7 linked regions of the Homo sapiens genome follow. The protein of the gene in region 4 purifies or fractionates together with the protein of the main gene of each other region. This does not show direct contact. Each region holds a gene or a part of one and is shown on either strand. Other genes may lie near its edges.

What was found.
Region 1: the proteins of CHAF1B (region 4) and BCL11A purify together in Homo sapiens (affinity purification with mass spectrometry, with the first as the bait; one large-scale study listed by BioGRID). This does not show direct contact.
Region 2: the proteins of CHAF1B (region 4) and BPTF purify together in Homo sapiens (affinity purification with mass spectrometry, with the first as the bait; one large-scale study listed by BioGRID). This does not show direct contact.
Region 3: the proteins of CHAF1B (region 4) and FBXO38 purify together in Homo sapiens (affinity purification with mass spectrometry; one large-scale study listed by BioGRID and IntAct). This does not show direct contact.
Region 5: the proteins of CHAF1B (region 4) and CHD5 purify together in Homo sapiens (affinity purification with mass spectrometry; one large-scale study listed by BioGRID and IntAct). This does not show direct contact.
Region 6: the proteins of CHAF1B (region 4) and ARB2A purify together in Homo sapiens (affinity purification with mass spectrometry; one large-scale study listed by BioGRID and IntAct). This does not show direct contact.
Region 7: the proteins of CHAF1B (region 4) and WAPL purify together in Homo sapiens (affinity purification with mass spectrometry; one large-scale study listed by BioGRID and IntAct). This does not show direct contact.

What each region holds. Positions count from the first base shown.
Region 1 is NC_000002.12:60,470,155-60,473,654, reverse strand, and holds part of BCL11A (BCL11 transcription factor A), read left to right. Parts: intron 1-3,500. UniProt on the Homo sapiens protein: Transcription factor. Associated with the BAF SWI/SNF chromatin remodeling complex. Binds to the 5'-TGACCA-3' sequence motif in regulatory regions of target genes, including a distal promoter of the HBG1 hemoglobin subunit gamma-1 gene.
Region 2 is NC_000017.11:67,944,003-67,947,502, forward strand, and holds part of BPTF (nucleosome-remodeling factor subunit BPTF), read left to right. Parts: intron 1-147; coding exon 148-370; coding exon of another isoform or gene 371-482; intron 483-1,406; coding exon 1,407-2,323; intron 2,324-3,500. UniProt on the Homo sapiens protein: Regulatory subunit of the ATP-dependent NURF-1 and NURF-5 ISWI chromatin remodeling complexes, which form ordered nucleosome arrays on chromatin and facilitate access to DNA during DNA-templated processes such as DNA replication, transcription, and repair.
Region 3 is NC_000005.10:148,439,458-148,442,957, forward strand, and holds the end of FBXO38 (F-box only protein 38), read left to right. Parts: intron 1-189; coding exon 190-335; intron 336-966; coding exon 967-1,070; intron 1,071-1,666; coding exon 1,667-1,780; intron 1,781-2,511; coding exon 2,512-2,690; 3' UTR 2,691-3,379; downstream 3,380-3,500. UniProt on the Homo sapiens protein: Substrate recognition component of a SCF (SKP1-CUL1-F-box protein) E3 ubiquitin-protein ligase complex which mediates the ubiquitination and subsequent proteasomal degradation of PDCD1/PD-1, thereby regulating T-cells-mediated immunity.
Region 4 is NC_000021.9:36,391,892-36,395,391, reverse strand, and holds part of CHAF1B (chromatin assembly factor 1 subunit B), read right to left. Parts: intron 846-3,500; coding exon 742-845; intron 1-741. UniProt on the Homo sapiens protein: Acts as a component of the histone chaperone complex chromatin assembly factor 1 (CAF-1), which assembles histone octamers onto DNA during replication and repair.
Region 5 is NC_000001.11:6,170,322-6,173,821, reverse strand, and holds part of CHD5 (chromodomain-helicase-DNA-binding protein 5), read left to right. Parts: intron 1-3,500. UniProt on the Homo sapiens protein: ATP-dependent chromatin-remodeling factor that binds DNA through histones and regulates gene transcription. May specifically recognize and bind trimethylated 'Lys-27' (H3K27me3) and non-methylated 'Lys-4' of histone H3.
Region 6 is NC_000005.10:93,877,664-93,881,163, reverse strand, and holds part of ARB2A (cotranscriptional regulator ARB2A isoform 1 precursor), read left to right. Parts: intron 1-3,500. UniProt on the Homo sapiens protein: Plays a role in the regulation of alternative splicing, by interacting with AGO2 and CHD7. Seems to be required for stabilizing protein-protein interactions at the chromatin-spliceosome interface. May have hydrolase activity.
Region 7 is NC_000010.11:86,438,293-86,441,792, reverse strand, and holds part of WAPL (wings apart-like protein homolog), read left to right. Parts: intron 1-3,500. UniProt on the Homo sapiens protein: Regulator of sister chromatid cohesion in mitosis which negatively regulates cohesin association with chromatin. Involved in both sister chromatid cohesion during interphase and sister-chromatid resolution during early stages of mitosis.

The sequences.
Region 1 (3,500 bases), on a different chromosome or scaffold from region 4:
AGATGCGGCTGAATAGAAAGGACATTTACTTTGCAGTTAGGTAAAGAAGCCTCTAGCTCAGACTAGCTGCACTGTTGTTATTTGTGTGGCTTGAACCTAGTAATCGGATTCAGAACTGGAATGGGTTCCTTCAGGGTACTTTACAAACGTTCAGGATGCATTTTAAGTGTAGTCTAGAAGGTGGTACATGGAAGAGCTGAGGGACTTGAGGATTATGGACTGCGAAAGGACTGTAGGTAGTCCTGTATTTTGGCCTGTCACCAATATAGAGACCCCTCCTCATCATAGTGTCATCCATTCTCTTTTTGAAGACCCAGGGTGAAAGAAAGGGGGTCACAGTGTCACGAGATAGCCCATTCCACGTGGGACAGCTCTACTGCTTTTGTGCCTGTCTCACTGAAAAAAAAAAAAAAACAGGGAAATTATCTAAAAACATATGTTTAGGAAATATACACACATTCACACACGTACACAGACACATATGCACACACTCACATATACACACACATGAACACGCTAACACACATGTGCATGCACATGCTAACACATGCACAAGCATACACACACATGCACACAGTCACAATATACACACATGCACATGCTCACAAACACATATGCATGCACACGCTAACACACATATGTACACATAAATGCTTGCAAACACACACACACGTACATTTTAGTGAATAGCACACATCTATGTACTCCTGTGGAGAGTCCTGTGGTTTTAATACCTGTTAAAGTTGGGCTCCCAAAGCAGTCATTAAACGTGTTGGAATGATGCTTTTTGCTTAGCTGTTTTGGCACATTTGGAAATCTGCAGTATTACCTGTTGATTAGTAGACAGTAATGTGGCTGTATTACACACCCAGTGATTAGTTTCAGAAACAAATAGCATGTTAATAGTCAAGGAATCTTTGAGATGTTCTTGAGGAAACCAAAAAACTTGATTTAATGACTTAAATTCCAGGAACATCCCACTGGGCTTAGAGCTCTTTGTCAAAAGTTGGTACCCAATATATGTAGAAATGTAAAGTGACCAAATGTATAACATTAAATCAAAGCCATTCCCAGTTTGCTGCATATTTTTTAATGAAACCTGAAAAATAAGAGTCACTATTTTTAAATTCAGCCATAAGGAAACTTTGCAACCTAATAATGTGTAAGGCATTTCTGAGGCCCCAAGTGGAAATACTGGGTCTAGAGAGACCTTTATGAAATAGAACAGGTTGAAACACCTTCCACCAGAAAAGTGTAAGACATTTGAAAAAAGATTGAGTCAGAAAAGGGAAATGTGTCCCATTTGAGAGACCAGAAAGGGAAACAAGAGTCCAGTTCCTGCTGTGTCCGTGCAGTTGCCACAGCTGCGTTCGCTGACATGTCGGCTTTAATGGAAGCAGTGAGGACACAATCTGTCTGGCACAAGCTGGTTTGGGTGTTGTCTCATGCTAAGAAGGCCCTGGACCTGATGGAGAGCCTGGACCTGTTCCCTGTCCTTATCAATGACAGACGGAGGGTGGAACCTGAATTTCCTAATGGAGGGATCCTTAGGGATTCCCTAAGCTTAATTTGTTTTTGACTGTTCCAGTCCTAAAGGAGGTGGGTCCTGGACAGGAGGGAAAACAGCCTCATGGCCCATGGGTCTCTGCCCAGGGAATTTCAAAGCTTCCAGCGTTCATACTTCCCTTACCCTAAGACAGCAGTGCTGATTCAGCTTGAGTGTGCATGAGAATCACCTGGAGAATTTATTCAACATAGAAGGCTGCTTCCCCACCCTCAATTTCTGATTCAGTAAGTCTGAGGTGGTGCCCAAGAATTTGCATTTTGAACAAACTCCCAGGTGATGCTGATCGGGGGTGGGCCTGGGTCTGCGCTGTGAGAATCACTTGCCTAAGAGCACTAACAAAGAAAAAAAGAGGACATAACTAGATCACCCACTTCCTAGCCAGCAACCAGAGCCCATCTCTGGCTGGGGAGAATGAAAGCGAAGGTGGGAAAAGAAGAGGCCCTCAACCAGGGGCAGCTCCTTTTCCCCACCTTGGCCTGGGAAGGCAGAGCTGCTCCTCGAGTTTGACGCTCAGAAGCATTAATTGTGATACTTTACTTTGCCTAAGCCGTGATGAAATAATTGAAGGCATCATAGCAAGAAGTTAAGCCCTAGGGAGGCTATTAACAATTTAGCATTTCCAGTTCATGTGGGAATGTCGATTTTACTTACCAAAGAGAATATTATGGATGTGTTTAGTGGAAGAAGCAGCAGAATCAGCTGGGGTCCCCAGTTGGCTTTGCTTTGACCCTCTTCCTGAAGGAAGATAAATGCAAGGGTGAGTCTCACAAAGACAGTGTGCTTTTTTTCTAAAGTAAATAGCTTCTTAGGCTGATAGAAATGTTTTTAGCTGTCTAATTCTGCAGGGGAAGCAGAGGTAGAGGGTGAACACAGCAAAGGTGAGGCCAGGAGGCCCAGGCAGCAGAGCAGGCCTTGTTTTCCAATTGTGAGACCAAGTCAGTTCATTGGCACCTTTCGAAAGCCCCATGTAGCGCTGCTGGGCTGGACCCTCCCCCAAGACGGTTAAGTACTGCTTAATGGATCAGTAGAAACAGGACCTTCTTGTTGGGCAGTGAAGACCACGGCAGGAGCAGCAGGGGGGAAGAGACAAATTCCCAGGAAAGACCACTGGATCAGGAGTCAGGAGATTAATTCTAATCTTCACATTGTGGTTAATCATCAGTGTAGCCATGGGCAAGTCACTTAATTTCTCATGGCCTCAGTTTCCCCATCTGTAAAATGAAGGGACAGACTTGATGATAGCTAGGGTTTTTTACAACTTAGAAAACAAAAACAAAAACAAAAACAAAAACAAACTATGCTGCCAGATAGTCAGATGAGACCTCACTTTGCCACACGGCCAGACACTGTAGAGATCTGGTCCTGCCGTCAGCTTGTTTAGGGCTAATGGGTTTGTAGACAAGTTTGCCAACAAGAGATTCATGCGAGGGGCTAGGCATGGATTAGGTTAGCAGTTCTCCCATTTCTTGCTGGAGGCCTGCTGAAGCACTTCAGGGTCTCTTCCCAGAGTAAGTGGCAGAGAATTTGAAATTTGATACTCCCCATACAAGGATCCAAGTACCTGTTGCGTTTATGCTGGGATCACAGAGATACCTGGGTTGCCTGTGTTTCCTAAGAAAAGGATGTCTGTTTTGGCAGCAAACTTAGTGAACGGCTGAGGCAAAAACAAGTGCAAAGATGGATTCTCAGATTTCTCATTGAAAAATACCATGACAAAATCTGTAGTAATTTTACGCCACACTCTCAATTCACTTGACGTAAACAGTCAAATGTAGACATACTTGTTTGTTAAGTCCGGTCTTCCTGCTTGTGTTGGTTCACTTTGTGGTGTTTATTTTGTTTTGGGTCAGAGAGGATGAAATGTCTCTGTAGATGTTCTCAGGCTAGGTGGTGCTTCCACCAGGGCTTCCCTCTGCAGGCCTGGTAACAGCAG
Region 2 (3,500 bases), on a different chromosome or scaffold from region 4:
TAGCTTATCTAAATTCCTGCTGGTGACATTCAAATATGTATTTTCATTATATTAAAAGATAATTACACATAAAAATGATTTAATAAAAATGATATACATACAGATTGATGCTTTGAACACTGTTTACATGTTGTGTTTTTTCCACAGGGTGGCAATCAAGGTTTGACAGTAGTAATTCAAGGACAAGGTCAAACTACTGGACAGTTGCAGTTGATACCTCAAGGGGTGACTGTACTCCCAGGCCCAGGCCAGCAGCTAATGCAAGCTGCAATGCCAAATGGTACTGTTCAGCGATTCCTCTTTACCCCATTGGCAACAACAGCCACCACAGCCAGCACCACCACCACCACTGTTTCCACGACAGCAGCAGGTAGAGCTGTGGGTTTATCGGAAATGTCGGATGTTACTACTACACGTGGCTGGGCTAACAGAGGCCAACAGGAGAACCAGTATTTACCTTTGGAAGGATATGCCTCAAGCCAGTGACCTCAACAGTTGACATAGTCAGCCTCACAACGTCTCGAAGCTTTTGTACCCTATTCTTACAGACTCCCTGTTACCACCACCCTCTCCCTCCTATTAAAAAAGAGAGAGAGAGAAAGGGGGCAAAAATAATGGTTATCTTGGTAACTATGCCCACACTTACTCCTTGCTAAGCCTTGTAGGTGCTGATTCAGTCATGGAGGTGATCTCAGGGAGGGTGGGTAAATCCAGTTCATGACCTCAGATTGAGAGTGGGTCCAGAACCACTTTGTTGACCTTCTGCTGCAAGTCATTGTAACTAACTACCACCACATCATGGGAGAAAAGTGAAGCGTGGCAATTAGCCTGGGCCAGATGACCCAGCTGATTTCCAGAGGCTGCAACTTACTTTGGAAACCAGCCCTCTAGAGTTAGGAGAGTGTACAGGGGACAGCCAAGAAGCAGGGCCCAGGCTTCCCAGTTTCAGAGCGTCCTGCCCTAAGCGTGTCCAAATGGAGCATTTCAAAGGCATAGACCTTCTGTACCAAAATACAAAATTCTCAACTTTATTTACTTTATTTATTTTTTCGAGACAGGGTCTTGCTCTGTCGCCCAGGCTGAAGCGAAGTAGCACCATTACTGCTTACTGTAGCCTTGAACTCCTGGACGCAAGCAATCCTCCCACCTCAGCCTCCCACGTAGCTTGGACCATAGCCATGCTCCACTATGCTCAGATAATTTTTTATTTTTTTTGTTTTTGTGTAGAGACGGGGTCTCACTATGTTGCTCAAACGATCCTCCCACCTCAACGTCCCAAGGTGCACAGGTGTGAGCCACCACGCCTGGCCAGAATTCTCAACTTCAGAAGATTTCCTTCAGATTCTTCTTTAACCACAGTTTTATGTTCCAGAGTAATAGAAATGGTTCATCTTTCCTTTTTACAGGTACAGGTGAACAAAGGCAGAGTAAACTGTCACCCCAGATGCAGGTACATCAAGACAAAACCCTGCCACCAGCTCAGTCATCAAGTGTGGGTCCAGCAGAAGCCCAGCCACAGACTGCTCAGCCTTCAGCTCAGCCCCAGCCCCAAACCCAGCCCCAGTCCCCAGCTCAGCCTGAAGTTCAGACTCAGCCTGAAGTTCAGACCCAAACAACTGTTTCATCCCATGTCCCTTCTGAAGCACAACCCACCCACGCACAGTCATCCAAGCCCCAAGTTGCAGCACAGTCTCAGCCTCAAAGTAATGTCCAAGGACAGTCTCCTGTTCGTGTCCAAAGTCCATCACAGACTCGAATACGTCCATCAACTCCATCCCAACTGTCTCCTGGACAACAATCCCAGGTTCAGACTACAACCTCACAACCGATTCCAATTCAACCACATACATCTCTTCAGATACCTTCCCAAGGCCAGCCACAGTCACAACCCCAGGTACAGTCTTCAACTCAAACTCTTTCATCAGGACAAACTTTAAATCAAGTTACTGTTTCATCCCCATCCCGTCCTCAGCTACAAATACAGCAGCCACAGCCCCAAGTCATTGCTGTGCCTCAGCTGCAACAACAAGTCCAGGTTCTCTCTCAGATCCAGTCACAGGTTGTGGCTCAGATACAGGCTCAGCAAAGTGGTGTGCCCCAGCAAATCAAACTCCAGTTACCTATCCAAATTCAGCAAAGCAGTGCTGTGCAGACTCACCAGATTCAGAATGTGGTTACAGTGCAGGCAGCCAGTGTGCAAGAGCAGTTGCAAAGGGTTCAGCAACTCAGGGATCAGCAGCAAAAGAAGAAACAGCAACAGATAGAAATTAAGCGTGAACACACCCTCCAAGCTTCTAATCAAAGTGAAATCATTCAGAAACAGGTAAAGTTATTAAGTAAAAGCAGCATGTTCAGTAGCTTGAATTATTGTGCTGTGCAGTAGAATTAGTGTTTGGTTGTGTTAGGTTTCCTAAATGAGACAAAGTCATTAATGTTTAAATTTAGAAGAAACACTGAATTGACCAAAAAAAATACTGAATGACTACTGTGGTGTGGAACACTTCGTTAGATACATATAATATATAGTCAGTGCTTATTAGGAATGACCTGTATTTTGGGAGGACTAAGATGGGAAGAATGGAGTTATGAGCTTTAATCTTTAATATAAAACTTGAGGGTTTAACTAAGTTTTAAAGCCACTTCAGACATTATAGCAATTCCTTTAAAGTTATTGAAAGTTGTCATTCCTTAGTTTGCATGTAGACTATGCAAATTATAGACAGATTAAACTCATTTGCATTTCTAGCCACACCTTTGTAAAAAAGTTTTTGAAAACATATTATTTCATAGCTTAAGTAAAAAGTGGCATCATCCAGCAACATCTTGCAATGGCACATTAGTGAAATAAAGCAATTTAGATGAGTTAGAATTAGTCTACTAAAGTGAAGTCACACATATAACATCTGATAACATTACTGGCAGAAACCATCTTTTCATCTACCTATAGCTTGCTTCGCTCAGCACTAGGCAGGAGTTTGAATGTGGATTTTAAGTGTTACCAAGTTGTGAGACCTTCATTCAGTTCCTAGGTCTCCCATTCACAGTCCGTGAAACTCACTTATCCCTCCTTAGCTATAGCCTCTTAAAACCCTTCTCTTTCCAGCCACATGAGATTATTGCAATGATTAAATGAGGTCATAAATGTAGAAGCACTTTTTACACAGCGAAGTTATTTTAAAGATGTAGTATTCTTATGAAAATGACGGTCATATATATTATATTTAAATGTATTATTACCCAGCTTTACTGTGTATCTATAAACTGAGAATTACTACACTGTCTGTCTATCCGCTAATCTTTGTATAGGGGAGACGAGGGACAGTTCTTTAAAATTCATTCCTGGGAAGAAAGCATAATGTTAAAAATACGGCCTTTGGAGAAGGATAGCCAGGTTAAAATTTCAGCTGTATTACTTACTGTTTGTCAAACAAGGTGGTTAATTTCTTTATGTCTCAGTATCTTGTTTATAAAATTATTGCTATGGTTCAGTGTTGTTGTAA
Region 3 (3,500 bases), on a different chromosome or scaffold from region 4:
GACAGAAGAATTTGCAAAATTATTCCCAGCATGACAGACTGTTTTCAGGTCTGAATGTGACTATTTGATTTTCAAATCAGCCAGAGATTTCAAAACTGAAGGTCCATGGAAAGATTGTTCAAGCTCTCGGAGAGAGATTTCTAAGGCATTCTCTTTGTTGAAGACATCTCTTTATGATGTCTTCCACAGGTGGACACTCTAACTTTGGAGCAGAAGCTATTTAGTGGTCCCTACCCCTATCACATCTGTATTATCCATGAATTCAGTAACCCTCCCAATGTCCGGAATAAGGTGCGCATTCGCAGCTGGATGGACACTATAGCAAACATCAATCAGTAAGTAACTTTGTGGCCCTTAAAGGCCTTTTGAGTCATTTCTCATAGCAGGGACTCCCAGAAGCAAATCCCAATTTTTCTTTATTTTAAATGATTCCATCTAAGCTTTTCAAACAAGCTTATCCTGAAGTTAACGTAAGTAAGAAACTGAGGGAAATGAGGACTTAAAACTAAAAAGCATGTGTATATATTTATGATCTTTAAAACTCAGGTAAAAATTACAAGAACAGATTGCACATGTACTTGTAACATTATTTAGCCTTGGGGCATGAAAAAGAGATCAACTTGAAGAAGATCTTAAGACTATGATATTCTATATCATCAGAAAATTTGACTTTTATAAATTTGTTATATAAATGTTGCATTAAGCACCTTTTGTGTAGAAGACATATGCTTAGAAAGTGACTTTCTTTCCCTGATATGATTTTGAAGATAGTGAAGAAAGTAGTTTTGACCTGACTACACTTGGATTCTCTAGTTTGAGTGTATCCTACTTCCGTTAGGTATTTGATGTTTTGTTTGAGATGTTCGGTAGAATCTGTGTCCGAAACAGTTTTGATGGTTCCTTCCTACCCGACACTAATTATTTCCAGTTTTGTAATTTTTACTTAATTTTTCCTGTTGCTTCCAGAGAGCTCATTAAATATGAATTCTTCCCTGAAGCCACTCGAAGTGAAGAAGACTTAAAGAAATACCCCAAGTACCCCTGGGGGAGAGAAATCTATACTTTAGAAGGTGAGTATTTACAAATGTTTAGAAAGTTAAATAGCCTGTGCAGTACTTACCTCTGTAATCCCAGCGACTCAGGAGGCTGAGGTGGGAGGATCACTTGAGCCCAAGAGTTCAAGACCGGCCTGGGAAACAAAACCTGGCCCTTTCTCATTCACGGATGAATGAATGATCCATCAATCAATTAGTCAAACTGGTTTGGGCTTACAGCAAGCAGTAACCCAAATGTAGAGAATTACACTTTTTAAAAAAAGAAAGTTGAATAGCTATTAACTAGATGACCGAACATGCCTTAGGGAAGATATGAATGGGGGTCCTACAGTTCTTCAAAATATGGATGATTTTAATACCTGCAAGAAGTGGGAGCCAGATGAAGATTGCTTTGCCTGTATGAGTCTTTACTATTTCTAGGACAATCAGAACCAGTGATGAAACATAAAACGTAAACAGAAATTACAAATTAGTTTGATAGCTGGAAATGATTTGAGGACACCTGACTCACTCTCTTTATTTTATATTTTACATTCTGCTTACAAAATACTGCAGAATTTGGCTCTGTCAGCACTCCCACGCCAGTTAGCAATGTTACATTTGTCTTTTAGGTGTTGTGGATGGAGCTCCATATTCCATGATTTCTGACTTCCCTTGGCTGAGGTCATTACGAGCTGCAGAGCCCAACAGCTTCGCTCGATACGACTTTGAAGACGATGAAGAAAGTAATTATGACCTGACTTGACATCTATTCTCTAGTTTAAGTATAGCCTACTGTGTTACATACTTAATATCTTTTTGTGAGTTAGGAGCAGTGCAGTGTTAAATGGTTTCCCATAGAAATAATTTGTATTTACTCACTTCAAAACAGTTCTTTATTTGTGCAGTAGATGTTCAGTGGACTTACTAGGGATATATAAAGGCTGGTAGAAAGGATTCCTTTAGACAGATTTTCCTACAAGATTTTTATATTACCTAAATATTTATAATCTTATTTATTAAATAACTTCAACTATATTGTTTCAAAATTGTTCCAATTGTATTATTCTCCTGCTAGTTATGAGCTGCTTATTGTGTGGAAACTTATAATTTAGGTGTAGAAATTAGGGGAGAAATTTTTGAATGTAGTTTCTCTAAGTGGTAGCATACTTGAATATTTATTGTTAACCAAAGGTTTTTTAAAAATACTTTATAAGGAAATGGATTTTATGAACTACATGTGCATGTGTCTGACTTGCCTTTGGTGCAGTATTTTTACCTTGAGACTTTAAGCATGTATTCTGTCTTAGGCATCAAACATAAGAACAAACTGGTGGTGACCCATTCCTTGACCTATTCATGCATCAGTTACATTATAGTGCAGTATATGGGACTGTCCTATGGACCAGCTTATCAGTGATTTTCCAAATGATTCTGATTATCATATGTATCTCTCCTTTTATTTCTAATTTCAAAGGCACTATCTATGCTCCTAGAAGGAAAGGACAGCTGTCTGCAGACATCTGTATGGAAACAATAGGAGAGGAAATTTCAGAGATGCGTCAGATGAAGAAGGGTGTATTTCAGCGAGTAGTGGCAATTTTTATCCACTATTGTGATGTCAATGGAGAGCCAGTTGAAGATGACTACATTTAATTGGTCCCTCCTCCTTTCCAGCTATTTTGTCAGAAAGCAAGTAGGGCCATCCAGCTGCCAGAGTGCTCCACAGGGACTTGAGGCATGCAGTTGGGAGGTCCTGGCTCGGTTTGCTATATAGGGAATATATAAGGAACATCGAAATTGTATACAAAGATTTGTACATAAAAAATATACAAAGACGCTTCCTAAAGTACCAACTTTATATCATATGTTTATACAATTTAATTTAAAAATTCATTTTAAGGAAGACAGATAATTTGAAAGACTTTTGTTTTTCTTGACTTAATTCATGAAGTATCATTTTTTGACTGAGTCTCCATTTACTTCATTCTTAATGATTATTGTCATCCCTTTAAATCTGTGCCTTTTTCTTCTTGAGCGAAGCTGTTTGAGTAAACCTGTTGAAGAGTGTTTGTGTCTTTTGTGCTTTTTTGTTGTTATTAAAACACCAACTAAACCTTATAGTCAAGACAAGGCTCTATGTTTCTGTACAAAGCTGTAGTTCTTTCTTAGTATTATAGTTGCCATGTTTCTTAAAATCAAGTAAAAAGACTTATGAGCTTAAAAAAAAGTGAGTTTGAGAGGGAAATGGAAAAGTTTCCAGAGTATTTCTAGTAATTTATTTCCACATTGAATTGTGTATATGCTTTATCTTGAATATAAAATAAAAGTTTATTAAAAACTTTTCTCTTGCCTTGGACCTGAATCCCTCTTTTTAAAGAAGAGTAGCAAATACTGCACAGAAAAGCAGTGTATATATAGAGTTGTATCTAAGGTAAGATTCCAGTGTAATCCAATTTCTGATCT
Region 4 (3,500 bases):
CACTAAAACAATTTTTTGTGTTGCTTTTAAAGTTAAAGCAAGTAGGCCGGGTGTGGTGGCTCATGCCTGTAATCCCAGCACTTTGGGAGGCCGAGGCGGGTGGATCACCTGAGGTCAAGAGATAGAGACCAGACTGGCCAACGGTGAAACCCCGTCTCTGTTAATGATACAAAAATTAGCCAGGTGTGGTGGCAGACACCTGTAGTCCAGCTACTCAGGATGCTGAGGCAGGAGAATCGCTTGAACCCGGGAGGTGGAGATTTCAGTGAGCTAAGATTGTGACATTGCACTCCAACCTGGACAAGAGCGAAACTCCGTCTCCAAAAAAATAAAAATAAAAAATAAAGTTAAGGTAAGTTAGGGCCAGGGGCAGTGGTTCATGCCTGTAATCCCAGCACTTTGGGAGGCTGAGGCGGGCAGATCACCTGAGGTTAGGAGTTTGAGACCAGCCTGGCCAACATGATGAAACCCGTCTCTACTAAAAATACAAAAATTAACTGGGTGTGGTGGTGCATGCCTGTAGTCCCAGCTACTTGGGAGACTGAGGCAGGAGGATCGCTTGAATCTAGGAGGCAGAGGTTGCAGTGAACCAAGATCGCACCACTGCACTCCAGCCTGGGCGGCAGAGTGAGATCCTGTCTCAAAAAAAAAAAAAAAAAAAGTTAAAGCAAGTTAGACTTTTAGGCTTTTATAGATGCTTAGAATATTTCTTCCTGCTAATAACAAAAATATATCATTTACCTTTGCTGACATCCCATATGATGGCTGTGTTATCCACAGAGGCAGAAGCCATTAAATTCCCATCAGTTGCCCAGCAAATATCATACACATCTTCTAAGTGGCCCCTAGAATCCAAAAACAAAGAGGAAAAAAGCAATTACTCCCCAGGTATAGCAGCTTACCCCTGTAATCCCAGCACTTTGGGAGGCCAAGGTAGACAGACTGCCTGTGGTCAGGAGTTCAAGGCCAGCCTGGCTAACACAGTAAAATCCCATCTCTACTCAAAATACAAAAATCAGCCAGGTGCTGTGGCTCACGCCTGTAATCCCAGCACTTTGGGAGGCCGAGGCAGGCAGATCACAAGGTCGGGAGATCGAGACCATCCTGGCCAACATGGTGAAACCACGTCTCTACTAAAATACAAAAAATTAGCCAGGCGTGGTGGTGCACACCTGCAGACCCAGCTACTCAGGAGGGTGAGGGAGGGGAATCACTTGAACCTGGGAGGCAGAGATTGCAGTGAGCCAAGATCGCGCCACTACACTCCAGCCTGGCGACAGAGTGAGACTCCATCTCAAAAAAAAAAAAAAATTAGCCAAAAAAAAAATAGCCAGGTGTGGTGGCGCACACCTGTAGTCCCTGCTACTTGGGGGCTGAGGCAGGAGAATCCCCTGAACCCAGCAGGCAGAGATTGCAGTGAGCCAAGATCATGCCACTGCACTCCAGCCTGCGCAACAGAGTGAGACTCTGACTCTAAACAAAACAAAACAAAAAGCAATTATTAACTCAAAAACGGACAAGTTATCAAAAATATAAGGACAATCTCCAGAACTAAGCATTAAAATGAGATTCCAAAATTTCCACTGGCACTATATTAGCTATAGCTATAAAAAACTACTTTCAAGGATAGCTATATCTGACCGGTCGCAGTGGCTCACGCCTGTAATCCCAGCACTTTGGGAGGCCGAGGTGGGCGGATCACCTGAGGTTGGGAGTTTGAGACTAGCCTGACCAACATGGAGAAACCCCGTCTCTACTAAAAATACAAAAAAATTAGCTGGGCATAGTGGTGCAGGCCTGTAATCCCAGCTACTCGGGAGGCTGAGGTAGGAGAATCGCTTGAACCCAGGAGGCAGAGGTTGCGGTGAGCCGAGATCATGCCATTGCACTCCAGCCTGGGCAACAAGAGCAAAACTCCATCTAAAAAAAAAAAAAAAAAAAAAAAGGATAGCTGTATCTTTAAAATTGAATACTTTTTACTAAGAAAAATGTATAGCCGAAACTAAGAAAATCCATTTTAATTATGCTTTCATCCTTTAAAACTATTGTCTTAGGACTGTTTCATATAAATAAAACTTCTAAATTAGACCAGCCTGGGCAACATAGTGAGACCCTGTCTCCACAGAAATTTAAAAATCCTCTCCCTCTCCCTCTCCCTCCACCGTCTCCCTCTCCCTCTCCCGCTCTCTCCACAGTCTCCCTCTGATGCCAAGCCGAGGCTGGACGGTACTGCCGCCATCTCGGCTCACTGCAACCTCCCTGCCTGATTCTCCTGCCTCAGCCTGCCGAGTGCCTGGGATTGCAGGCGCACGCCGCCACGCCTGTCTGGTTTTCGTATTTTTTTGGTGGAGATGGGGTTTCGCTGTGTTGGCCGGGCTGGTCTCCAGCTCCTAATCGCGAGTGATCTGCCAGCCTCAGCCTCCCGAGGTGCCGGGATTGCAGACAGAGTCTCACTCACTCAGTGCTCAATGTTGCCCAGGCTGGAGGGCACTGGCGTGGTCTCCGCTCGCTACAACCTCCACCTCCCAGCCGCCTGCCTTGGCCTCCCAAAGTGCTGAGATTGCAGCCTCTGCCCGGCCGCCACCCCGTCTAGGAAGTGAGTAGCGTCTCTGCCCGGCCGCCCATCGTCTGAGATGTGGGGAGCGCCTCTGCCCCGCCGCCCTGTCTGGGAGGTGAGGAGCGTCTCTGCCCGGCCGCCCCGTCTGAGAAGTGAGGAGCCCCTCCGCCCGGCAGCCGCCCCGTCTGGGAAGAGAGGAGCCCCTCCGCCCAGCAGCCGCCCCGTCTGGGAAGAGAGGAGCATCTCTGCCCGGCAGCTGCCCCGTCCAGGAGGTGGGGGGCAGCCCCCGCCCGGCCAGCTGCCCCGTCCGGGAGGTGGGGGGCGCCTCTGCCCGGCCGCCCTGTCTGGGAAGTGAGGAGCCCCTCTACCCGGCCGCCACCCCGTCTGGGAGGTGTACCCAACAGCTCACTGAGAACGGGCCATGATGACGATGGCGGTTTTGTCGAATAGAAAAAGGGGAAATGTGGGGAAAAGATAGAGAAATCAGATTGTTGCTGTGTCTGTGTAGAAAGAGGTAGACATAGGAGACTCCATTTTGTTCTGTACTAAGAAAAATTCTTCTGCCTTGGGATGCTGCTAATCTATAACCTTACCCCCAACCCCCTGCTCTCTGAAACATGTGCTGTGTCAACTCAGGGTTAAATGGATTAAGGACGGTACAAGATGTGCTTTGTTAAACAGATGCTTGAAGGCAGCATGCTCCTTCAGAGTCATCACCACTCCCTAATCTCAAGTACCCAGGGACACAAACACTGCGGAAGGCCACTGGGTCCTCTGCCTAGGAAAACCAGAGACCCTTGTTCACTTGTTTATCTGCTGACCTTCCCTCCACTATTGTCCTATGACCCTGCCAAATCCCCCTCTCCGAGAAACACCCAAGAATGATCAATAAATACTAAAAAAAAAAAAAAAAAAAAAAAAAAAAAATTTAAAAATCAGCAGG
Region 5 (3,500 bases), on a different chromosome or scaffold from region 4:
AACGGCAGCCTGAGAACTCCTTGGCCAGCGTCTAGGGTGGCCCTGAGAACCTCTGGCCCAGCAGTGGCCAAACTAGAGACCGCTGCCCTCTGCCCTTCACCACTGCCGCCCTGACCCTCCTGGGTCTCGCTGGGCTCTGCCTGCCATTGCTGAGCCCCTGCAGGCATCGTGTGGGTCCTTTGCATTCACAGTTTTTACTTCTCCCCATAGCCCTGGGGGAAAGGCTGCCACATTAGGCCCATTTCACAGATGAAGAGAGAGGCTCAGTGGGGAGGGGACTTGCTGGTATCACCTCCAGGAGGGGTAGCTTGAAGCCTCTGCTGCCCCTGTTGCTCCCTCCTCCTGACCTCCTGGTGGCCTTGTTCTCTGCTTGTTGCTGGTTGGGGAGTCCAGGTGGGGAACAGAAATAGCCCCTCTCGGCCGGGCGCGGTGGCTCATGCCTGTAATCCCAGCACTTTGGGAGGCCGAGGCGGGTGGATCACGAGGTCAGGAGATCGAGACCATCCTGGCTAACATGGTGAAACCCTGGCTCTACTAAAAATACAAAAAATTAGCCGGGTGTGGTGGCGGACACCTGTAGTCCCAGCTACTTGGGAGGCTGAGGCAGGAGAATGGCGTGAACCTGGGAGGCGGAGCTTGCAGTGAGCCGAGATCGCGCCACTGCACTCCAGCCTGGGTGACAGAGCGAGAGTCCGTCTAAAAAAAAAAAAAAAGAAATAACGCCTCTCCCCAGGTCCTGGAGAGAGTGGTGGACATTGAGTGGGGTCCCTGTCCTTGGCAGGTTTGCCGGCCTTTGCAACCTGGTGATGGTGTTCTCGTCCCAGCTCCTGGCTTGGCCCCTGCAAATCCTTCAACCACCCAGAATCAGATGACCTAACTTTCGCTCCACAGTCACGCGCCTTCCCCTTGTTTTGATCACCTTGTGTTTGCCAAGTGCCCTGGCGGCTGCGTCCTTGCTCTGCTGCTGCCCCTCCCCAGAGGAGTGAGGGGCTGGAGCCTGGGTCTGGCAGAGCTGTGGGGCTGTGTGCAGGGGGACTAGTGTGGTGAACCAGCCTTGACCCCCTTGAGGGACCTGTGACCTGCCAGACCACAGACCAGCCTGAGTCACCTCAGTGTCCCCAGGGCATCCACCGAGCCGGTTTACACAGCGTGGGCTGTTTCAGTGGGAGGGTGCTGGGGGAGAGACTTCGCAAGGGGGTGGGCGCCCACTGCCTGTGTTCAAACAGTGGCAGCTTCACCACTGCCAGCTGTAGGACTGAGATGTAGGTAAATAATGAGGTCCTTTGAGCCTCAGTTTCCCAATCTGCAGATGGGGATAAGAATAGAACCCTGAGCCAGGTGTGGTGGTTGTGCGTGTTGTCCCAGCTGCTCAGGAGGCTGAGGTGGGAGGGTCGCTCGAGCCCAGGAGGTCGAGGCCTGCAGTGAGCCATGATCATAACACTGCACTCCAGCCAGCGACTCTGTCTCTAAAATAAATAAATAAATAAATAAAGCCCCAAACCAGAAAGAATAGTACCCCTCTCTGAGTTGCTGTGTTGAACTGATACAAATTAATCAGTCCTAGGTACTTTGGGCCTGGCACGAGCCTGGCAGGTGGTATGCAGTTATCACGACTGCTGCTATTGCAATGCGCTACCCTGAGAAGGGCCCACCTCATCGGCCTGGCCGCAGCCTGCAGTGGCTCAGCCTAGGCCAGCCTGGGGGTCCCACAGGGCTGAGCTGGCGCATACTGGGAGCTAGAGAGGGGCTGAGGGAGCTCTGGAGAAAGCAGCAGAAGGTGCCTCTCCTTCCTCTGGTCGACTTGAGCCCCACCCCGCCTCCACCCCCAGGAGGTGGGTGATCACAGGGTAATGGGTCTTAATTAGAGCAGGCTTGGATCCGTGGAGCCTCAGGCCCTGGAGGGTTAGGGCTGGTGCATGAGGGCACTGCCAGGTGGGCCAGGAGGGTGGTGGGGCAGCCACGAGGGGCCAGGAGCTGGCAGGACAAGGAGTTCTGAGGTGAGGTTGCTCCTCCCTGGAGCCCCTCACCCGGGACGGGCAGGATGCCACCTTAACACTGGCTGCATGCTCTGCGTCTTGGAACCCTCTGGGCCTCTGCTCTGTCCCCACCAGATGGAGCCATAGGGAGGAGGGACTGGTGGGCTCAAGGGCACAGGCTGGGCTTGGGGAAAGGCTGACCGTGCAGTTGCTTGTATGGTGACCCCCAGATCTGGTTTTAGAAAGCTCAGGACCTGCTGCGGGAGCAGAGAGTGTCCAAGGGCAGAAAGGGGCTGGGGCTTGGCTGAAGACGGGAGCGTGTGAGGTGTTGGGGGGGGCAGTGTCATAGAGAATCAGGCGTGTGGTGACCTCAGGGCCACCCACCAGAAGCCATCTGGGGAGAGGAAGGGCCCATCAGAGACAGGGTTAGGCAGGGCTGAGTCCCCGTCTCCGTGTGCCAGTTCCAGAGCCTTCTCAGAGGTGGGTTTCACCAGGCAGAGGCCCTGGGCTGTGAGGTCTTCTGGGAACGGAGCTGGGGTCTGTCCATGGGCAGAGGGTCTGGGGCCTTGTCCTCGAAGGCCTGTTCTGGGCGTGGGTTAGGGCCAGAGCAGGGGTCCCCCTTTGTCCTCCCCTTACCCACGGGCAGATCCCAGACTTCCTTCCAGAACTTCTGGCAGCCACCTGTGCATACCCTCATCCGTTCTGTTGGTCAGGCCACCAGTCAGTGACCATGTGCTGGGCTGGGTTTCCTAAGTCTGGGACCACCCTGCCGGAAGGGGACAGCTGGGAGGAAGCAGGAGGGAGAGGCCCCCCCTCGAGATTGCATCAGCCAGAGCCCGTTACATAAGCAGTGCTGGGCACCGCCAGGGTGTGGGGGTGGCTCTGCCCAGGCGGTCTCCTGCGGTGGCGGGGGAGGCGGAGGCCCGGTGGCAGAGCGGGCAGTTGTGGACTGGCATCCCATCGGCTGCCCCACCACAGACAGCTCCCCGCCAGCCCTGCCACTGCCCCACCGACACCTGCTCTGCAGGACGACTCCGAGGGGGTCCCCGTGCACGTTTTCAGCTGGTTTGAAAAATCCCCGCCTTTCCACACTAGTGATCAGAGGAATGGGGTGGGGTCAGCCGGAGCAGCCCAGCCCCTGCCCCTGGCTGCTTGGGGCCTCACCCACATAAACCCACCTGGGGCGGCCCTTGCTGCTGGCTCCCCTGTGTGCCCTAGCCCTCCACAGGGTGCCCTCCCTGTGTGGGAGCCCCAAGCACCTGGCCACCCTTGAGGGAGGCCCTGGTGCAGAGAGGCACCAAGACAGTGGTGCAGCCCCCACCTTCCACTGGTGCAAACACCTTCCACTGGTGCACATTGGCCCCGTGGGATGCAAGGGTGGGAGGGGCGTCCGCTCAGCCACCAGAGCCCCGGTGCCCCCGAGGAGTGGGGACAGTGGGGCTAAAGCTGCACCCATAGTGTGGGCCATGGGAGCCCCAGAGACCCAGGGTAGGAGCCCTCCTGTCCCCCTTTCCCCGCTTAGGA
Region 6 (3,500 bases), on a different chromosome or scaffold from region 4:
GCCAATTCAGTTTCCAAACACGCTGTTTCTTTAAGGAAACATAGCATCAGCATAACATGCCGTTATGTTGTCCATAAGAGAGAGTATATGTAGCCTCACAATTCTAAGACATATCACCTGCTGAATTAATAATGCTCCATACAAAACATTCATCTTGGGGGGTAAGGTTTACTGGATAATGCATTGTTTTACGATGAGCAACTATCTACAGTGTCTCAGCCTAATGTCTAAAGGCAGATAGAGGGAGGAAGAGTAATTAATATCTTAATAAATACTTAAGCCAAAATAGTGTAGGGATAGTGTAATGAGGGAACTCTGTCCTTTTCTCTTGTCCTACCCAGCGAACTTTTACACTTTGTAGTACTAACGGTATGGGATCATTAGAGCAGTGTTGCCCAAGGATTTCTAATTCTGTAGGGGGCACAAACAATTTTGTTTACACTTGGACATATTCAGAATGTTGACATGCATACTATAAATTATATATATGAGACATTTGTCAATTTTCAAAGCCCTTATTATGGATGCTAGAAGTTTAATAGTAAAGCATGTCGAAAATGCTACGGGTTAAGAAAAATAGTATATTGAAATAGTCCTCAAAAGTGAGCAATTCAGAACATTTAAACACAGAGAAAATAACGTTTTATAAATTATACAATAGGATAGTAGTAACATTTCAAATTATTCAACTTGAACTATTTTTACATTTACTTTAGAAGATCATTAATAAAATGTTTCATACTACCTTTTAGGGGAAATATATTGCTTTCTAAGTTTTTATTTTCTGTATTATTCTAGTTCATGGCATAATCACTCTACTTTTTGGAATTGTGCTTTAAACATTCAAAATATTTTATTTATAGGTCAGTCTATTGAGTAAGCTATGACAGTTAAGCAGTGGTGAAAACAGCATATATATTCCCAAGACCCCAAAAATGTATCCTGACAAGGAATTCTCAAAGCAGCTCATATAGTGAATCAAGCAGATTATAATATTTAAATTTTTAGAAAGCATCTCACTATTTAATATATTATTTGAAAAGCAAGAACGCTTATTATATTTAGAAGCAATAAGTAGCTTGTTTGTTCCAATGCGGTTATATCACCCCCTTTCTTTCATATGATTACATCGGGGTCATGATGTTACCATCTTCTCTATCAGTTGTACTAAGCTTCCTTCTATATGATCCAGTCTGTAAACCACCATCTTATGACAGGTTAAAATTTTTAAAAGATTACCTCTGATATCCAGATTCCAGAAATGAATTATATAAGGCTTTTGAAATATAAAATTATAAGGAATACCTACTTGTTTATGTAAAATGCAAACAAAATGATATTGTATATTAGGTTTATTTCTTCTTAAACAATTTTTTTTTGCCTGTGACATGTACAGATTAAGCATCTATCTCAGATATCAGACATCTGTCCCGTAAGTTTATTTCTTCCTATTTTGTCTTTATCTTGTCACCATTGCTTTGCTTTTTTTCTTTTGTTCTCTTTATGCATGCATTTTCTTTATTCTGTTTTTCACATCTGCTTTGTTTTTCCTCTCATCTATTTTTTCTTATACCAAGGAAACAACATTCTTTTTATGTTGCTTCATTGTTAAGACCTGCTCTCTTTCCTTTTGTTTTCTTTTTAATTATTTTCTCTCTTTTAGACTCCTGTCATTTTTCCCTCTTTTCTAAGTCTTTTTGCCTCTTTGTCCCATTTCACTCATCAATTCAAGTTCCCAACAAAAGCACCAAAAGACAAAAATAGGCCCAAACACATAATACAACTTTGTATCGATGGTCTTAGTTATGAAATGTTTTTTCTTAGTAAACATCATTTCTCTTAAAATCTTCTGGAATTTTGCAAAATAGCAGAGATGTGCTGACACTCTTCAAACATACTTCTAGATAGTAAGTTTTGGCCTTGTAGTGGGAAAGAGAAGAACGGTTCATTTTGTGTGAGGTGTATTAATTCCTTAGTAATTTTGATCCATTCTGGAAATGACTTCTGCTAGTGCTCTTCTTCTCTCTACTTATCTCCCAATACCAAGTGTTTGTAATTTTCAGACACAGAGCATTTTATATGATGGAACTAAACTAACTTTTATTTATATACTTCTTACCAATTTACAATTTGAAATTATCTTCTATTCTTTGTGACAGCCTAATAGGTAGATGAATCACATCATTTTGTCCTGATTTTATAGTTGGAAACTGATGCACAAATGTTAGTCTAGGATCACAAAGCTAGTAAATGGTAGATAATAAATCTACTTGTTGAAACCAGGACTAGTAATTACTGTAGATTCTTCCCCTCTTTCTTCTTTACCACATTGTTCTGTAGATTGAAAACAAAATATGTATCTGAAATTTGAAAATTAAGCCATGTGTAGTAAATGTATGATACAATATAGTAAACAACATTTGATGACAAAGATAGATTTTTGATCAGCTATTATTTAATGGACTCTGTTTCTTAAATGTTTATAAACAATTTATATGTATAAATGTAAGTATTTCTATAAATATGTATATATATTTATATATTCTCTACAAATAGTATGACTAATACTGATCCAAATTTACAGATCAGATTGTGGGTCAAAAATTTTTAGCTTTTGGAGGGTGGAAACTCAGTCTGAGGACCCTGCCCCAGGAGCAGGAGCTATCATATCCTCCCCTCTGCCACTTTCCATTGCAACTAATAAAGCCTGTTTGTACCATAAACACACACACACACACCCCTTTGAGTAATTTTTCAAAGGTCACATAGCTCTTAATATAAGCTTCATGAGGGCATGTACTTAGTCTGTTTTGCTCGCTACTGTATCCCAGAGCCTACAACAGAGCCTTCATAATAAATATTTGTAGAGCAGATCTTTCACAATAAATTTTAAATAAGGTGGTAGAGCCAGGATTAAAACCCCTCACTACAACTACCACTTTTTAAAATATGTCCTGCATTATTAAAGTATACAGCTTGATTTTCTATGAGGAAACATTCCAACAAACCAAAACAAAAAGTCAAACAGCACTACAATTGTTGACTTCCCACTCAATCCAGTAGCTGAGATTACAATCCAAAAATTAATGGTATAAGGTCATTATTTGATACCTTGAACTATATATTTTCATCTGAATATATAAAAGTAGAATATCCTATTTTCCTTTTGAGCTATGTCATTATACTGCTAAAATTATGGATGAAAATGGAAATGTTTCAACCTGACCCATTGCAATTTCTGTGTTACACATTTGCTCTTAAGAGTACAGCCAGGCTGCTGGGGTTACTCTACCCTGTACAAACTTTGTGCTTTATGGAATCTGTAACTTCAATTTCTGTTCTTTCCTGAATCCAAAATTCTATCCACTTACAACCCACGTTATAAGTGCCTAGCTGAAATGCCACCTCTTCCTCTCACTATAACCGATGACCCCTCCTTACTGAGACTCATGGAATGTATAATGATTAGCTAATTTACATGGAATTTACCAGGTACTGTC
Region 7 (3,500 bases), on a different chromosome or scaffold from region 4:
TGGGCTCAAGTGATCCTCCTGCCTCGACCTCTCAAAGTGCTGGCATTATAGGTGTGAGCCACAGTGCCCACCCCATTTCTCTCTTTAAACTGCTGTCCTCCACATGTTGTCCTCTGCTAGCCCTTATGGTCCCGTGCTGACTACAGCTAGGTGTCTCATCAAATTAAGTAGTGCCTAGCAGTAATAGGGCCTCTTCCTCTATAGTTTTTTTTTTTTTTTCATAGGTGCATTGGCTGGAAATACATATCTTTTTAAGACAACTGTTTGTTTATTTCCCCTGTGGGACCCCATGCCACTCTCACCCCTCACCAGGTAGACTTCTCATCTTGGCCAGCATTGGGTCACAATGCTTTTGTCTGAACCAGTCACTGGCTGGGAACATGGGATTACTGTGAGTGGATTAGATCATCAGGATTCACTTAGGAGAAATACAAATGTCTAGACAATCAGGCTGAGTCAGCCTGAAAGTGAAAGGTTGTGACTATGGGGATAGTCTGCTGCCTTGGGAAAAACAAATATGAAGGGTAAAACTGTTGAAGAAGGGTCCAGCAGAATCATTGTGAGTGTTCTCTTTCAGATGGGGGGTTGGGCATAGGTGGATTATTTTTAAGTGTAAAGTCCATTTGTAAAGCCAGATTTTGAAATGGAAGGCAGATTGTTTTCTAGGAGCAAGGGCATTGAGGGAACAAGAAAGAGTGGAGACCTATAGGAGGGGGGCATTAGTTTCAGCAGGAAGCAGGGGCCATCTCTTTTTGAAGCTGGAGGACTGGAAGAACAGAGTTAATGATAAATGAATGGCTTTATTTGAGCAGGAACTCATGCTGGCTCTGTGTACCTGGGCCCATCTACCCACCCCACGTTTCCTTACTTTAGCCATCTAATTCTTTGTATTGCCTTTTTTTTTTTTTTTCACTTTGTGTATCTAAGTCCTGTGTGTTTTTCTGAATCCATCTTGTCCATCTCTTCCATACTTAACATTTTAACTAACCTAAATACAACAGCCCACTCTGTGTGGCCCCTCTGGGTACCGCCGATTTCAGGATCAAGACCAAAGTTCTCATCGTGGCTCTGGAGGCCCCGCAAGATCTTTATATCCCTTTTTCTTATTTCCAATGACAAGATTTTAAGAGCAAATCAGAAACCCATCACACACAGGAAAGGAGGAAGAGGCAGGCCTCAAAAGCAGTGAAAAAAGGCCGGGCGCAGTGGCTCACGCCTGTAATCCCAGCACTTTGGGAGGCCAAGGTGGGCAGATCACAAGGTCAGGAGATCGAGACCATCCTGGCTAACACGGTGAAACGGTGAAACCCCGTCTCTACTAAAAATACAAAAAAAAAATTAGCCGGGCGTGGTGGTGGGCACCTGTAGTCCCAGCTACTCGGGAGGCTGAGGCAGCAGAATGGCGTGAACTCGGGAGGCGGAGCTTGCAGTGAGTGGAGATCGCACCACTGCATTCCAGCCTGGGCAACAGAGCGAGACTCCATCTCAAAAAAAAAAAAGCAATGAAAATAATATTTAAATTTAAAGATTTTTAGATACTCTGTTTTTTACACACTATAGGTTTAGTCATATTTCAGTCACGTTCTTTCTTACATAATCGTTCTTGAAATTGTGTTATTACCACATATGATTTATCTTGGGCCATCTTTCCCATGCTAATTCCTATTTGTGTTTGCCTGTATCTATCTTGTCTCTAAAAAGAGAATGTTCTTAAATTGTGGGAAATGTTGTGAATTCATAGAGCCCCAGATTTATTTGTTGCCTTGGAGATTATTATGATTAACACCAAAAAGCTAGCTGATACCACAAAATGTAAAGGAAGTTTGGTTTACCTAATGTGTAAGTGAAAAGAGATAGACAAGAAAGCATGTGGTTGTTGCAGTAAATGCTGCTTTGTGGTCTGATCCCATTTTCACTTGCCCTCCATGTCTTCTCACTTTGCAGCTGGTGCATTGCAGTGGTCAGTCTCCTCACTGCTCTTCCTGCTTTGTTGCCCCTCCATTCCTGGGACATTGCACATTGCCACTGGAGCTAACTTACTTCAGAGCACTTACTGATCACGTAGCTCCTTGCCCAGTCTTCCTTGGCTCACAGCCAGGAAGGGGACTCATGACTGTTTAGTGTTGCAAGACCCTGGACTTAAGACTGCTTCTCCAATTTCCAAACCTACTGGACACTTTTAAAATTTTTCAAATAGGCCATGCTGTATCATGCCTTTTCTTTTTGTACCTGCTATATTCTGTTAAAAAATGCTGTCACTGTCCCTCCCATTGCCTCAGAAACGCTGTATGTCATGTTCTGTAGTGTGTTGATAGAGAAGGGTTTGATTTGGATTAATGAGGGGCTTTCATCCAAAATATAGGAGCTAATCATATATTCTCTATTACAGAGGCGTACTTTTCTACTGAGCAGTTCTCCAGAGACACCTTAGCCACTATTTTGCCCACCACTGTGATAGCTTTTGGTGGGAGGATCAGTTTGAATGTGTGTAACTGATATCTTCAGCACATGAGTACTTTAGCAGTGTTTTGATTAGATCTTTTCTGAAGCTGTATTCATCTCATTTTTTTGCTGCTTTCTAATTTTGCGAGTACCCTGGCATGGGAATAGGAAAAAGGGGGTGGGTAGTGGCAAATTTCTGAAGAGAAATATGTCATCTCTCCTTTTTTGCCCCCGCTAACAAAAGTCGAATTGGGAGCTTTTGTGTGTTTTCTTTTTGTTTTTTGGTTGGTTTTGTTTAACCCTTTACCTTGTGTCCCCAAACTTGGGACAGTATACTTTCTTTTGCCCCTTACTACAGGTGAACCTTCCTAAAAGATTTTTTCTTTTTATTCTCCGTAAAACATTTAAAGCATTCTTTAATGAAATAGTTTTTTAAGCAGGTTGTGTAATGTTTTCCATGTAACAGATTGGTTTATATATAGTTTGGCTGCTTCTTGCTAATAATGAAGGGTTTTCTCTCCTGATATTGTCTGAGAATCTATCATAGATGAGGTTAGATTGCCTTTGGAAAGATGCTTCTAGTTAATTCCTGTCCTATATAATTAGTTGAATTCATCTGTGAAGGATGTGAATTTTTCTTTGATCTTTTTATTTCATGAGCAGCTTTGTGAGTACATTCTCAGGTCTAAAGTCCTCACCCTCTTCTCCTATTCCCCCAGGGCCCCCAGTGAAACACACACATACATTAAACAGTGCAGTTTGTTATTTCAGGCCTTTTTCTTTGCATTTATGAAAGTAGGTCGGCATGCTGCCTCACACCTGTAATTCCAGCACTTTGGGAGGCCAAGGTGCGTGGATTACTTGAGCCCAGGAGCTCGAGACCAGCCTGGCCAACATGATGAAACCACGTCTCTGCTAAAAATACAAAAATTAGCCAGGCATGGTGGCACGTGCCTTTAATCCCGGCTACCCGGGAGGCTGAGGCATGGGAATCACTTGAACCCAGGAGGTAGAGGTTGCAGTGAGCTGAGATTACACCACTGCACTCCAGCCTGGGT